2 linked regions of the Homo sapiens genome follow. The protein of the gene in region 2 purifies or fractionates together with the protein of the main gene of each other region. This does not show direct contact. Each region holds a gene or a part of one and is shown on either strand. Other genes may lie near its edges.

Region 1 (3,655 bases), on a different chromosome or scaffold from region 2:
GGAATTTTCTTAATTTCATTTTTGCATAGAAATACAATTGATTTCTATATATTGGTTTTTGTATCCTGCAAACCTGATAAACTTGTTTATTCATTCTAGTAGGGTTTTTTTGTGGGTTCCTTAGGATTTTTTAAGGTACAGGATCATGTCATCTGTGAATAAGGATGCTTTACTTCTTCCTTTAGAATCTGAATGCTATTAATTAATTTGCCTTATTGTGCTAGCTATAGCTTCCAGTACAATGTTGAATAGCAGTGTGAGACTGAATATTCTTTCCTTGTTCCTGATCTTAGGGGGATAATATTCAGTCCTTCACCAGTAATTATCATGTTAGCTGTAGGTTTTTCATAGGTGTCCTTATAAGGTTGAGAATGCTCCCTCTATTCCTAGTTTATTGAGAGTTTTTATTAGGAATTAGTGTTGAATTTTGTCAAATGCTTTTTCTGCATCTATTGAAATGATATATGGCTCTTTTCCTTTATTTTATCAATATGGAGTATTATATTAACCAATTTTTGGTTGCCAAACCAACCTTGCATTCCAGGGATAAATCCTCATTGTGGTTGAAGCCCATTAAATTCCTATAACTTGCACTGACTTTTGTAAGTTAATTGTAGTTTCAAATTTCTTTAAGGACTAGAATTGTCATTTTTTTTTTTTTTTTTGGTTGCGGGGTGGGGCGGGGGACGGAGTTTCACTCTTGTTGCCCAGGCTGCAGTGCAATGGCACGATCTTGGCTCGCCACAGCCTCCGCCTCCCGGGTTCAAGTGATTCTCCTGCCTCAGCCTCCTGAGTAGCTGGGATTACAGGCATGTGCCACCACGCCTGGCTAATTTATTGTATTCTTAGTAGAGATGGGGTTTCTCCATGTTGGTCAGGCTGGTCTCCAACTCCCGACCTCAGGTGATCTGCCTGCCTTGGCCTCCCAAAGTGCCGGGATTATAGGCATGAGCCACCGCACCCAGTCTAAGAACTAGAATTGTCATTTCTAAGTAACACTTCAAAATAAGTAAACTTATTGTTTTCACCAGCCACTGTTATTGAGTAGATCATTGATATTGGGAAATAAATTTGTGCTATATTTTGAATGTTAAATTTTAGGCTAGGTCATGGTGGCCCACACCTGTAATCTGAGCACTTTTGGAGGTTGAGGTGAGTGGATCACCTGAGGTTAGGAGTTCGAGACCAGCCTGGACAACATGGTGAAACCTTGTCCCTACTAAAAATACAAAAATTAGCTGGGCATGGTGGTGGGTGCTTGTGATCCCAGCTACTCAGGAGGCTGAGGCAGGAGGTGGGAGGCAGAGGTTGCAGTGAGCCAAGATTGCACCATTGCACTCCGGCCTGGGCGACGGGTAAAACTCCATCTCAAAAAACAAAAACAAAAAAGAATTTATAGGAAAATACTAAAAGTAATATCCTCTGCATTTATAGCCTATGGACCAGCTCTCATTGAACACTGTCTTTTAGAAAATGGATTCTCGGGTAATGTCAAAGTGGATGAAAAACTTGAAACTAAAGGTATGTCTGCATGGTACATTTTTCATTTATTTCATTTTTTTTAAACTATGAAAATTTTTTCTGGGAAAGTAATAAGGGAGCAGGTGGTTCTAGAATGAAAAACATTTGACCAGGCACACTGGCTCATGCCTGCAATCCCAGCACTTTGGGAGGCTAAGGTGGGAGGATCACTTAAGCCTGGGTGTTTGAGGCTGCAGTGGGTGGTGACTGCACAGCTGCACTCCAGCCTGAGCAACAGAGTGAGACCCCCATCTCAAAAAACCCCACAAAAACAAGTATCACCACTCTCAAAAAAAAAAATTGAATGAGATTTTAGTGAATGTTTTAGTTTCTGCAATATACTAAATCAGTGCACTCATAAAATGACAACAGGTGCTGGTGGTGGTGTTTTGTTTTTGTTTGTTTTTATAAAATGACTCTGATGTTTATATGGAGCAAAAGCATGTGAAAATGTTCAGGATAACTCTGGAAAATACTAGTAATGATTTATTACTGTCTGTGTAACCCTTCACAGATTAAAATATGAAGCTATAGTAATTAAAACTGTAAGTTTTTGGAGAAGGAATAGCATAAAGATTCCAAAAATAATTTGAAATAATATGGGAATTTAGTTTATGAACAAAGTTCCTTTCAGGTCATGGAGGGAAAGGTGGATGATTCAATAAAAGCTACTTGGACAACAGGCTGTTCAAAATGAAACCATATATCCACATATACTGGTTATAAACATGAAATCACTATCTCTAATTTTCTTGAACGCAACATTATTTTGTAAGCACTTTCCTGTTTTTCTACATAGTTGTTTAGCCACGGTTAATTGACACTTGATTGGCACTCCTTTTTTCCTTTTTTTCCCCCACCATTAGATATTGAAAAAGTACTTGTTTCTCTGCAGAAAGCAGAAGACTATATGAAAACAACATCCAACTTCAGTGGGAAGGTAGCACCATGTATACTTACTATATATTGTTGTGATTTATTTGGGTTTTCAGAAATTAAACGTTCATTAAAGGATCATTATATATACATTTTATTTTAATTTGGAAAATTGTTATCTGTAATATGCTTATTCCAGGATAGTTTTTTTGTTTTGTTTTTTGAGACAGTCTTGCTCTGTTACCCAGGCTGGAGTGCAGTGGCATGATCTTGGCTCATTGCAACCTCTGCTTCCCTGGTTGAAGTGATTCTCCTGTCTCAGCCTCCCGAGTAGCTGGGACTACAGGCACGTGCCACCATGCCTGGACAGTTTTTATATTTTCAGTAGAGATGAGGTTTCACCGTGTTGGCCAGGCTGGTCTCGAACTCCTGACCTCAAGTGATCCGCCTGCCTTGGCCTCCCAAAGTGCTGGGATTATAGACATGGGCCACTGCACCCGGCCCAGGATAGTGTTTTAAAAGTTTTTGTTGGTTTATAAGTTTTTTTCTGTTCCCTATCTTTTATAGAAAGTACAATGTCAGGTTAGTATCGGCTCTTCAGAAAAGTTGAGGAATTTACAGTTATTTCTTTAGTTTCAGATAGAGAAGCACATTTTCATTTGTCAGCCCTTTTCAAAAATGTTGTGATTTACAGCTCCCAACCATTAAATATTTTTTGAATTACCTAGTAGCTTATGAGTGTTTTTCTTCCCTTTTCAAAGCATAACTATTTATAGAAAATTAAAATTAATATCAGTCATAGAAAGTAAACCTTTGGATTAGGTGCAAATTAATATCAGTCACAGAAACTAAATTTTTAGGTGCAGTGGCTCACACCTGTGATCTCAGCACTTTTGGAGGCCAAGGTGGGCGGATCACTTGAGACCAAGAGTTCGACACCACCCTGGCCATCATGGCAAAACCCCTGTCTCTACTAAAAATACAAAAATTAGCCAGGTATGGTGGCACACACCTGTAATCCCAGCTACTTGGGAGGCTGAGGCATGAGAATTGCTTGAACCCGGGAGGCAGAGGTTGCAGTGAGCCGAGAATATACCACTGCACTCCAGCCTGGGTGATGGAGCGAGCGCGACTGTATCAAAAAAAAAAAAAAGAAGTAAATCTTTGTTAATTATGAATAGGAATGATTTTAATGTTGCATTTTTGTAGGGATATATCATTCAGAAAAGAGAAATAAAACCAAGCTTGGAAGCAGATA
Region 2 (3,655 bases):
GTCTTTTAAATTAACAAGGAGAAGGAGCTGGAGTCATTTTGAAGCAACCATGAATGCATATGTCTTATGTCTACAATTTCAGCTACCTCTGACTTTTGAGGATGTTGCTATTTATTTCTCCGAGCAAGAATGGCAGGATCTAGAGGCATGGCAGAAGGAACTTTACAAGCATGTGATGAGAAGCAATTATGAGACTCTCGTCTCTCTAGGTAAGACCTGTTCACCTTTGTGGGTAGGTCATGGAACTGGATCCTGTAAGGGGTCACAGTCACTTGATGCTCCTGTTTCTCAGGTAGCAAGATTTCTCAGAAATTAACTCAGAAGGGTATTTTTACCCTGCAATCTATTGTTAATACTTTTGTCAACATTGTTAATCTTTACTCAAGGGTAGACATTGTTACATGAGAATATTTGAACAATGTAAGGTGGTCCGGGTGACTAAATATTATTTATGAGGGGCCTTTAGTCATGACTATCAGGATGCCATGATTGTCCACATAGGAGCACACCTAGCGCACATTCATGAAGTGCTCTGTATATCTTTAACCTAGGATGTCCCCACCTCACAGCTTTTACAGTGGGGTCTAAATACTTCAGAAAAGCTATTTTGGAAGGGTGTACAATGAAGTGTTTGTTTTTTTGAGACATAGTCTCACTCTGTCGCCCAGGCTGGAGTCTTGGCTGACTGTAACCTCTGCCTTCCGGGTTCAAGCAGTTCTCCTGCCTCAGCCTACCGAGTAACTGGGACTACAGGTGCGTGCTGCCATGCCCGGCTAATTTTTGTATTTTTAGTAGAGACAGGGTTTCACCATGTTGGACAGGATGGTCTTAATCTCCTGACCTCGTGATCCACCCACCTCGGCCTCCCAAAGTGCTGGATTACAGGCGTGAGCCACTACGCCTGGCCTGAAGTGTTTTAAGAGTAGCTGTCTGCTGGGCGCGGTGGCTCACGCCTGTAATCCCAGGACTTTGGGAGGCCGAGGCAGGTGGATCACGAGGTCAAGAGATCAAGAACATCCTGGCCAACATGGTGAAACCCCGTCTCTACTAAAAATACAAAAATTAGCTGGGCGTGGTAGCGGGCGCCTGTAGTCCCAGCTACTCAGGAGACTGAGGCAGGAGAATCACTTGAACCTGGGAGGCGGGGGTTGCAGTGAGCTGAGATCACGCCACTGCACTCCAGCCTGGCAACAGAGTGAGACTCCGTTCCAAAAAGGAAAAAAAAAAAAAAAAAAAGAGTAGCTGTCTCTGCCTGGGTATGGTATTGGATGTCCTTTTTGCTTATTTGGTTTTTATATTTCATTTATCAAATATCATTTTTAAAAAATCAGTCTGTTCAGAGAAGCATCAAGTGAAAGATCGAAGTCTCCTGTTTCATTCTTTTTTTTTTTGAGACGGAGTCTGGCTCCGTCGCCCAGGCTGGAGTGCAGCGGCGGGATCTCAGCTCACTGCAAGCTCCGCCTTACGGGTTCACGTCATTCTCCTGCCTCAGCCTCCCGAGTAGCTGGGACTACAGGCGCCCACCACTGCACCCGGCTAATTTTTTTGTATTTTTAGTAGAGACAGGGTTTCACCGTGTTAGCCAGGATGGTCTCGATTTCCTGACCTCGTGATCCGCCCTCCTCAGCCTCCCGAAGTGCTGGGATTACAGGCGTGAGCCACCACGCCCAGCCCGTTTCATTCTTATCTCCACATTCAGTTAACCACGTGAGGGCAACCACTTTTAACCATTTTTGTTTTAGTTTTTAAAGTGGCTTCCTCCAATCTAAATACGCTTCCAATAACTTGATTTATCGAGTTTAGACAGAATTAATTACTATGAAAAATTAGGCATTAGTTCACTTATACAATCCCTCTTCTATCATCTTCTCCCCAGTTTTTGATAGTTTTTGTGCCTCTGTTGGTCAGCTTTATAATTTAAAATAATATGTTTAAGATTCTAGATTGTATTCCATCATTTTCATCTGACTCATTCAGTATATAAAGATAATTAGTTCTCTAGTATTTCTCTTCATCTCTTCTGCCAGTTGACAACAGCCATACCACTTCCTTTATATTGCAAAGTTTCTAATATTTATATTCTGTTCTGTTACCATAGTTAACTTTTTTTTTTTTGAGACGGAGTTTCACTCTTGTTGCCCAGGCTGGAGTGCAATGGCACCATGTCGGCTCACCGCAGCCTCCGCCTCCTGGGTTCAAGCAATTCTCCTGCCTCAGCCTCCTGAGTAGCTGAGATTACAGGCATGCGCCACCACGCCCTGCTAATTTTATATTTTTAGTAGAGACGGGGTTTCTCCATGTTGGTCAGGCTGGTCTCAAACTCCCGACCTCAGGTGATTCACCCACCTTGGTCTCCCAAAGTGCTGGGATTACAGGCATGAGCCACCGTGCCTGGCCTACCATAGTTAACTTTTGCAGGCTGTATGTATGGATTGTTTCTAAAACATATAACTGAAAACATTACATTATTTTCATTGTTACTGAAGAATCAGTTACAGTAAATGAATCTATAGAGGCAAAAATATAATTCTATGCCATTAACCCTGTGCCAGCCTAATAAGAATGTTCCAAGCATCAAGATCAAATGGATTCTCTTTTTTTCATTCTTATCAGTTGTTCAAAATTATGCTACATTTTGGCCAGGTGTGGTGGCTCACGCCTGTAATCCCAGCACTTTTGGAGGCTGAGGTGGGTGGATCACTTGAGGTCAGAAGTTTGACACCAGCCTGGCCGACATGGTGAAACCCCATCTCTACTAAAAATACAAAAATTAGCTGGGTGTGGTTGTGCATGCCTGTAATCCCAGCTACTTGGGAGGCTGAGGGAGGAGAATCACTTGAACCCAGGAGGCGGAGGCTACAGTGAGCCGAGATCACGCCATTGCACTCCAACCTGGGCAACAGTGAGACTTCATCTCAAAAAAAAAAAAAAAGACAAAATTATGCTACATTTTAATTTGTTTCGCTGTTGGGCCACAACTGTTTCTCATGCTTTCATCATATCCTTGTGATTATCCATCATCGTCATCATGTTGCCCAGGCTGGTCTCGAATTCTTGAGGTCAAGTGATCCACCTGCCTTGGCCTCCCCAAGTTCTGGGATTACAGTCGTGAGCCACTGTGGCCGGCTAGGAGAACACCCATCTTCTTTTATTTATTTATTTATTTATTTTTGAGAAGGAGTCTCCCTCTGTCGCCCAGGCTGGAGTGCTGTGGCGCAATCTCAGCTCACTGCAAGCTCCGCCTCCCGGGTTCACACCATTCTCCTGCCTCAGCCTCCCGAGTAGCTGGGACTACAGGCGCCCGCCACCACGCCTGGCTAATTGTTTTGTATTTTTAGTAGAGACGGGGTTTCACCGTGTTTGCCAGGATGGTCTCGATCTGCTGACCTCATGATCCACCCGCCTTGGCCTCCCAAAGTGCTGGGATTACAGGCGTGAGTCACCACGCCTGGCCACCCATCTTCTTAATCTAATAGTCAGTTACATGGATCTTTCTGCCTTCTGTCAATTCTCTCCCCAAATGAATCTATAGATTCAAAGCAAGTCCAGTCAGAATCCCAATAGAGCTTTCTGCGGAATTTGATAAGCTGATCCTAAAGAACATGGGAGAACCAAGACAAGAATAATGAAGACAGTCTTATGGAACAAGATGGAA

What was found.
Region 1: the proteins of ZNF786 (region 2) and NEMF purify together in Homo sapiens (affinity purification with mass spectrometry; one large-scale study listed by BioGRID and IntAct). This does not show direct contact.

Annotation. Positions count from the first base shown.
Region 1 is NC_000014.9:49,832,229-49,835,883, reverse strand, and holds part of NEMF (ribosome quality control complex subunit NEMF), read left to right. Parts: intron 1-1,434; coding exon 1,435-1,521; intron 1,522-2,387; coding exon 2,388-2,461; intron 2,462-3,606; coding exon 3,607-3,655. UniProt on the Homo sapiens protein: Key component of the ribosome quality control complex (RQC), a ribosome-associated complex that mediates the extraction of incompletely synthesized nascent chains from stalled ribosomes as well as their ubiquitin-mediated proteasomal degradation.
Region 2 is NC_000007.14:149,077,145-149,080,799, reverse strand, and holds part of ZNF786 (zinc finger protein 786), read left to right. Parts: intron 1-82; coding exon 83-209; intron 210-3,655. UniProt on the Homo sapiens protein: May be involved in transcriptional regulation.